Linked DNA regions of Homo sapiens. The protein of the gene in region 1 interacts with the protein of each later gene in a pairwise test. Each region holds a gene or a part of one and is shown on either strand. Other genes may lie near its edges.

Region 1 (3,340 bases):
AGGAAATTCAGCAAAGCAGCATTTTGTATTAGAAGTAATTTGTATACTTGACATTTGAAAAAAATAGGGCTTAAGTGGAAACTGTGTCATTAATATTTAATTTTTGGAATTGATCCTGAGGTGATCAATTTATAAATAATATATAGAATTCTCATGTTTATGATACTTGATCAGAGATAATTTTTTGTTTTATAGTCCTGAGGGAAGTTACACTGATGATGCAAACCAGGAAGTCCGTGGGCCACCCCAGCAGCATGGTCACCACAATGAGTTTGATGATGAATTTGAGGATGATGATCCCTTGCCTGCTATTGGACACTGCAAAGCTATCTACCCTTTTGATGGTATGATTTTCTTAATAATATTGTATGTAAAAAAATTGGTTCTTTAAAAGTATTTACATCAAGTCACTCACTGTAGTATCCTTATTTAAGTAATATATGTTGTCAGAAAATTATTATCCCATTTCTTTAGTATGCATACTTTTGTTATAACTGTATTACAAATGTAGATATTTTTCTTCCGTACATGGAATTAAAAGGAAATTGCCCACGTTACTAGCATCCTAATACAGATTATTAATTAATTATCAATTTTGGTCAGTGCAGAATTTTCACCAGAGTCCTTACTGTGCACATGTCCTAAACAAAGTCGAGGCAGCTTGAACATGTAGCTCAACCCAGGAAGCGGGATGCTGGCGGATGCCACTTCATGCTCTTCCTTGTAGCTTACTAACATTAAGAGACAGGTACAAGGCATAGCTAGCTGAATGCCATCATCATATACTGAGTCCGTAGGCCACCTGTTTAGATGAAAGTGGGAGAGAATGTAGTAGCTACTGACTATGTTATCTCTTACTCTATGAAAGTTGAAGAACAAACTCTGGAAGGGAAGTAAGGCACTGAGGCCTTCTCCTGCAGATTTTTAGTTCCTCTTTATCCTGGACTGTGAAAAATACTTTCCCTCAACTAACAGGAGAACTGAGCGACACTTTCATAAATAAACGGTTGTAAAATGGTGCTTGATTTAAGGTCTTTCTCCCCACTTCGTGTTGGTTTAAAATTGAGCAAAGTCTCTAGTTACTTCTTATTAGAAAATATATTAAATTTAAGACCTTGCAGCCAAGTGCAGTGATGTGTGCCTATAGTCCCAGACACTTGGGAGGCTGCGGTGAGAGGATTGCTTGAGCCCAGGAGTTCGAATCCAACCTGGGCAGTAAGACCCTATCTCTAAAACAAAACAAAAGAAAACAAACTTGCTATAATGTAATCTAGAGAGTAGGGAAGCAATTTGGCACGTGTTAAATGAAGATTCAGTTGTGAAAATTGTTACTGCTAAGCAGGTTGGGCGTGGTTGGGGATAGAGAGTGAAAGAGTTGTGTATGGCCATTCTGTTTCTACCATCTCTAGAGTCAAACCCGTATTTTTCTCTGTTCTCCCTTCAGACTCTCTTTTTTCCTTCTTTCTTCCTGCTCTTTTGCTATCTGGTTACTGTTTTCCTAATCCATACCTGCTGAATTTTTTTAGATAGACTACTAAAATTTGGGAAAAGAGTTGGAATAGTGACATAGGAATTAGAATACCCTGTCAAATCATGTAATGTCACTGTGACTCAGTTAACTTCATCCGTTACATGGGGGTGATGTTATCCAGCCCTGCGGGCTTATTATGCAGCTCAAATGAGAGAATGTATATGAAAGTGCTGGGTAAGCCACAAAGCACAATAGAGATGTTGCTAGTGAGAGTCAGTAGTTCCAGGTACATTGAAATCTAGTAGGGTTTCATTGTATTTTGTGCATTGTATTAGTAACTTTAAAAAAAATTATCACAATGCTTAAATTATGCTTGTGAAAACTCTCATCTAGGACATAATGAAGGTACTCTAGCAATGAAAGAAGGTGAAGTTCTCTACATTATAGAGGAGGACAAAGGTGACGGATGGACAAGAGCTCGGAGACAGAACGGTGAAGAAGGCTACGTTCCCACGTCATACATAGATGTAACTCTAGAGAAAAACAGTAAAGGTGCAGTAACTTATATCTAAACTAACCAGGCACCTTTGTGCCATGTGTGACATAGGAAGAGTAACATAAAATGAAAACACATTCAACAGGTTGAAAAAAATAAGGAAACTTAAAGGGCATCCAAGATTAATTGTTCACTATGTGAGCTGAGTGTAGGCTTGATCTTGTGAATATTACCACAAGAAACATTTTGTGGCACTTTACTGTTTGAGTAACGTTGGTGTGAAGCTTAATTGATGCCTTTTGCTTTATGTCCCGCTTAAGTCTGTGTGAAGGATTTGTGTTTTTCTGCCTTACAAATAGAATTTGATTTATTGGGCAGGAATTCATGGATAGTAATGCTCTCTGCCCCCTTTACTTCAGAAAACACAGTGACTTTAGTGAATTTGAATAGTGAAACTGCTCTGAAATGCTATGGAAAGCCGACTCCCCAAAGAGTGGTTTCTTCTAGAAGTTTGAATTTGTAGCTACAGTTTCCAAGAAGAAAAATAGTAGTTGGATAATTTAGTAAAATAATAACATCATTTTCATTTTCTTACCTATTCTTAACTTTGGTTTCCTAAAGGAAGAAAATGAGCAGGTAGCACATAATCTATTTAAGTAGATTTAAAGAGAGTTTCAAAATAAATCTCCTGGTCTAGCTCTTAGGTGAATAAAATAGATTTTGTTTGAGACCTCAAAATATTTTGAGGTTAGCTGGTAATTTTCAATAATTTACAAGCTTCCTTCCAAACTAATCTCATACTTTTGTATGTTTCATCTTGAAAATATCTTTTGGGAAATACCACTTTAGTGATTATTTAGCATTTAGCAGTTACACATAGGAAAATACACAGTTACATAGAAAAATACACATTTGAAGATAGAGGAAACCTTGAATGGAGGGGAAGTGTTGACAAATTTTAATTTTTAAAGGAGAAACTTTTTGACTATCTGGGTTAGAGGAAGATATGTGTACCGCCTTTAGGGCATTTTGTTATTTCCGCTGAATCATTAGTTATTAGGATAGATAAATTTTTCCAATTAGTTTCAGCAAGCGTTGTTGGAAACACTGTGCAGTCAAGGATTGTGCAGTGCTGGTTGTGTGACCACACCCTGAGTCAGTGGTGTGGGGAAGTAAAGTGTGAAGAAGCAGTAAGATTGGTTTTTAATTTTGCCCATGTTTTAAATTTTCCTGGTGTTTTCGGTAGCTGACTATAAAATGATAGAGACATTTGGGACAGGCACTTTAAACTGAACACCCCTTTTGGTTTTACCAAAGGTCTTCAGTAATTGTTCTTTTCTTTTTCCTCCTGGACTGCAGGTTCCTGAAGAGGG
Region 2 (3,818 bases), on another chromosome or scaffold:
ACTGTGCGTGGGGCCTGTAAGACTCCTCGTCCTCCTCCCATCCTTGTTAATGGGGCTCCCAGGCCATGCTGTAGCCCAGCCATCTGCCTCCTACCCAGCCTGGGGGCACTGGCCAGCAGGGTGTGATAGCCGACGAGAGGGCCTCAGCCGCACTCTCCACGTTCACCCCCAGAGAGCGGTGGCACGCTTGTGCTGGTGAGCCAGGATGGCATCCAGAGGCCGCCGCTGCATTTCCCACAGGGAGGACACCTGCTGTCCTTTCTGTCCTGTCTGGAGAATGGGCTGCTGCCTCGGGGACAGCTAGAGCCCCCGCTGTGGACCCAGCAAGGGAAGGTAACTCGGGTGGGAGGCTTTAGGGGAAGGGCTGTGTGTGGGGTTCTCTGCCCGCCTCCCTTCCTTCCCCACGTGGAGTTCTTAGGAGCGGCCTTGTGTGGAACCCTGGATGAGACTCTGCCCTATACAGCCCGACCACCTACCCCTCCTTCCACAGGGGAAAGTGTTCCCCAAGCTACGGAAACGAAGCAGCATTCGCTCCGTGGATATGGAGGAGATGGGCACGGGGCGGGCCACCGACTATGTGTTCCGGATCATCTACCCCGGCCACAGGCACGAGCACAGTGAGTGTCCCGAGCTTCATCCCGGGGGAGGAGAGGAAGACGCTCTGGGAGGCGGGGAGCGCAGCGTCACCCAGGAGGGCAGCAGGCAGGGCCCACTGACCAGGCCAGGTTAACACCAGAGGCTCATCGCCTAGCCTCTCAGCTGGACCTTTTACCCACAGATATTGCCTTTGAAAAGGTGCGTCTCTTCTACCCAGCTCCCTTCCCCACTTCTCCACGCCAGGACTCTTGGCTCAGCAGACCTAGGCGTCACTACACAAGACTCTTAGTTATCCTTTCAGACCCTGTCCAGGGGTAAAACACGTGGAGAAACGAGAAGTAGAAGGTGGGGAACCCTCCATTGCTCTTCACCTCCTGCTCCCCAACCCCTACAAGACAGCCTGGGTATGGGACCAGCGCTACTTTTTTTTTTTTTTTTTTTTTGAGACGACGTCTCGCTCTTTTACCCAGGCTGGAGTTTAATGGCGTGATCTCAGCTCACTGCAACCTCTGCCCCTGGGTTCAAGCGATCCTCCTACCTCAGCCTCCTGAGTAGCTGGGATTACAGGCGCACACCTCCATGCCCGGCTAATTTTTGTATTTTTAGTAGAGATGGGGTTTCACCATATTGGCCAGGCTGGTCTCAAACTCCTGACCTTGTGATCTGCCTGCCTCAGCCTCCCAAAGTGCTAGGGTTACAGGCGTGACCACTGCGCCCGGCCCAGCGCTTCTTTTTGGATGGTGAATATTGTCTGCTGACTCCCCTAGAGCCAGAGCCCTCCTCAAACCAACTACTGATGAGCGTTAGCTGAAGTAGCAGGTTGCATCAGAGGCAGACTCGGGGCTGCCTGGGGGCTTTGGGCACTGGCGGGTAGAAAGGCGGCTTGGCCCTTGTGGGTCCTGCCCCACCCTGGACACACACCCCTGGGCCCAAGGGGGTCTCTCTGTCTATGTGCATCTACCAACACCAAAGTTCCCTTTCTGGTCAGAGTGCTGCTGCTGCCCATAGGCTTCTCTGGGCAGACTTGCTTTTCTTACAGATAAGGTCGGGGAATTTGCCAGCCCAGAGCGTTTATTGCTAACAAGACCACCCGCTCCCTAAATTTCCAACTTGTGCCAAAAAGTTGTCAACAAGTTGTCTCTGTATTAGGGACCGGACTGCCCAGACGGCACACTCAGCCACAGCACAGATAGCTCCACCAGGCTCAGAGGGCACACGGCACAGGGATGTCCCCCCTTCCCAGATGTACCTGACAAAGAGACGCATCTTTGGCCAGAATGTATTTACACACTTGGCACTTAGTCTCAGGCTGTTGCTTGGTTTAGCTTCTCCAGTCTCTGCCTCCCCTCTTCGATCTTTGCCATTTCCCAGTCCTGGTCACTTCACTTCCAGGACCACCTCGCCAAGGGCAAGCCAGGGCACCCAGAGGCTGAAACTCCACCAAGCGACTCCAGCTCCTTGAGGACAGCTCTGGGAAAACCCTTTCCTTTTCCTGGGAGGGAAGAAGGTGGAATTTATAGTCTGAAAAAGGGGATTTGGAGTAATCTTCAGATTTGGTCCAGCCTGAGAGGAGCTAGAGAACGATCAGGACCCATCTGCCAGCTGTCATGCGCAGCCTCTGTGAGGGCCGATGACCTCCTGGGCTGCCAGCCCATCCCAGACAGTCCCGGTCTTTCACATCCTCCCACCTCTGTTCTCTCTCTTCTGTTCTTCCTAGAGAGGCTGCCTCCGAAGAGTGAGGTTCTGCAGCTGCCCCAGCCCCTCGCCTCCTTCCACACTCTCCCAGGAAAATCATCCAAAGAGCTTTCTGGTCCCCTCCCTTCCCCTCTTCTGTGCCCTGCAGATTCACGATGACCCCGGCCTCCATTCCACTCCCCTTAAGGAGGGAGTCCGTCCTGCCCAGGGATGAGGGCCTCATGCCTCTGCCTCTCGCTGTTCTCTTTGAGCAGTCACTATTAACTACCACCACCTAGCGGCCAGCCGCGCGGCCTCGGTGGACGATGATGAGGAAGAGGAGGATAAACTGCACGCGATGCTCTCAATGATCTGCTCGCGGAACCTCACAGCTCCCAATCCGATGAAAGGTTCTTATCCCTCCCTCTCCCTGACCCACCTCATCCCCACCCTCCCTCCCGGGCCCGCCTGCCACCCACCACAGGGGTTCGAACGGCAGTGTTGGCATTAGGGGACTTGCACCCAGGGCAGTTCCCTTCCATCGGGGGCAGATCAGGGAGGGCAGAAGGAGGCCAGACAGGTGCTGGCAAGAAAAGGGGCTGGCCCAGGGCAGGTGGCTCCAGGCTGTGAGGAGGAAGAGGATTTGCTAATAGGAAGGTCTGATTATCTGATTGCCTCCTGGGCACCCTGAATGGATCTCTGAGCCCATTCCTACTCCGGGGGTCAGGCTGGCAAATGCCAGACAGAGGTCTCTTCCTTTCTCTCTGCTGATTGGGAAGACCAGCCTCTGGGCCTGGTGCTTCTGACTCCTGACTTAACAGAAACAGGATGGAGGTACCGGGTCCTTCCTGGGGCAGGGGCAGCAGCTGTGGGTCAGGCGAGGGGTTGAGGGCTGCCATGCGAAGGGCCCCAGGGCTCAGTCTTCCCAGGAGGCCTGAGGGCCCCAGCCGGCAGGGCCTGGTACTTTGGCATGAAATCTAGAAATAGCTGCAGCATGGTGTCCAGGAAGGGGCCAGGCTCAGGGCCTGGCAACATGAACTCCCGCCCCAGATATGCCCCTGGTTCACTGTGTGGTTTTGAGCAAGTTTCTCACTATCCCGGAGCTCCGTCTCTTCACCTGCGCCAGGGATATAAGACAGATGTGTTCCTGCCCTCATGAGTCTCAGGGTCCACGAATGGAGAGGTCACCTTTGTTGGAGGTGATAGCGTAGTGCCCTCAGCCTCTCAGGGTTCCTCTGCCTACCACCCATCTTTCCTAGCACAGAGCTGGCTTGGTAGAGAGGGAGCCCCCCTCTTTTCAGCAAGCAATCAGCCAGGCGACCTGTGAGGGCTGGGATGGGTGCTCCAGAAAGGGGTGGGTAGGAAGAGGCTGAGGCCAGTTCTCCCAGAGACGAGGGGAGCTTCCCCATTCCCACCCATTCCCATGCTACAAAATCAATTGCTTCTCCCTTTCCCCGCCCCTGCAGAGGATGTCCTCAGAATATGTCACACTCCCCTTAGGCTTCCAAAGTTCTGCCGGGAAGCCCAGTTCCTTAGCCGGCCACTGA

What was found.
Region 2: the proteins of FNBP1L (region 1) and SGSM2 interact in a two-hybrid assay, tested with the Homo sapiens proteins (one large-scale study listed by BioGRID and IntAct).

Annotation. Positions count from the first base shown.
Region 1 is NC_000001.11:93,549,083-93,552,422, forward strand, and holds part of FNBP1L (formin-binding protein 1-like), read left to right. Parts: intron 1-195; coding exon 196-344; intron 345-1,864; coding exon 1,865-2,023; coding exon of another isoform or gene 2,024-2,043; exon of another isoform or gene 2,044-3,326; coding exon 3,327-3,334; 3' UTR 3,335-3,340. UniProt on the Homo sapiens protein: Required to coordinate membrane tubulation with reorganization of the actin cytoskeleton during endocytosis. May bind to lipids such as phosphatidylinositol 4,5-bisphosphate and phosphatidylserine and promote membrane invagination and the formation of tubules.
Region 2 is NC_000017.11:2,364,725-2,368,542, forward strand, and holds part of SGSM2 (small G protein signaling modulator 2), read left to right. Parts: intron 1-172; coding exon 173-333; intron 334-490; coding exon 491-617; intron 618-778; coding exon of another isoform or gene 779-915; exon of another isoform or gene 916-942; intron 943-1,650; exon of another isoform or gene 1,651-2,089; intron 2,090-2,314; coding exon of another isoform or gene 2,315-2,336; exon of another isoform or gene 2,337-2,432; intron 2,433-2,440; coding exon of another isoform or gene 2,441-2,506; exon of another isoform or gene 2,507-2,540; intron 2,541-2,546; coding exon 2,547-2,681; intron 2,682-3,818.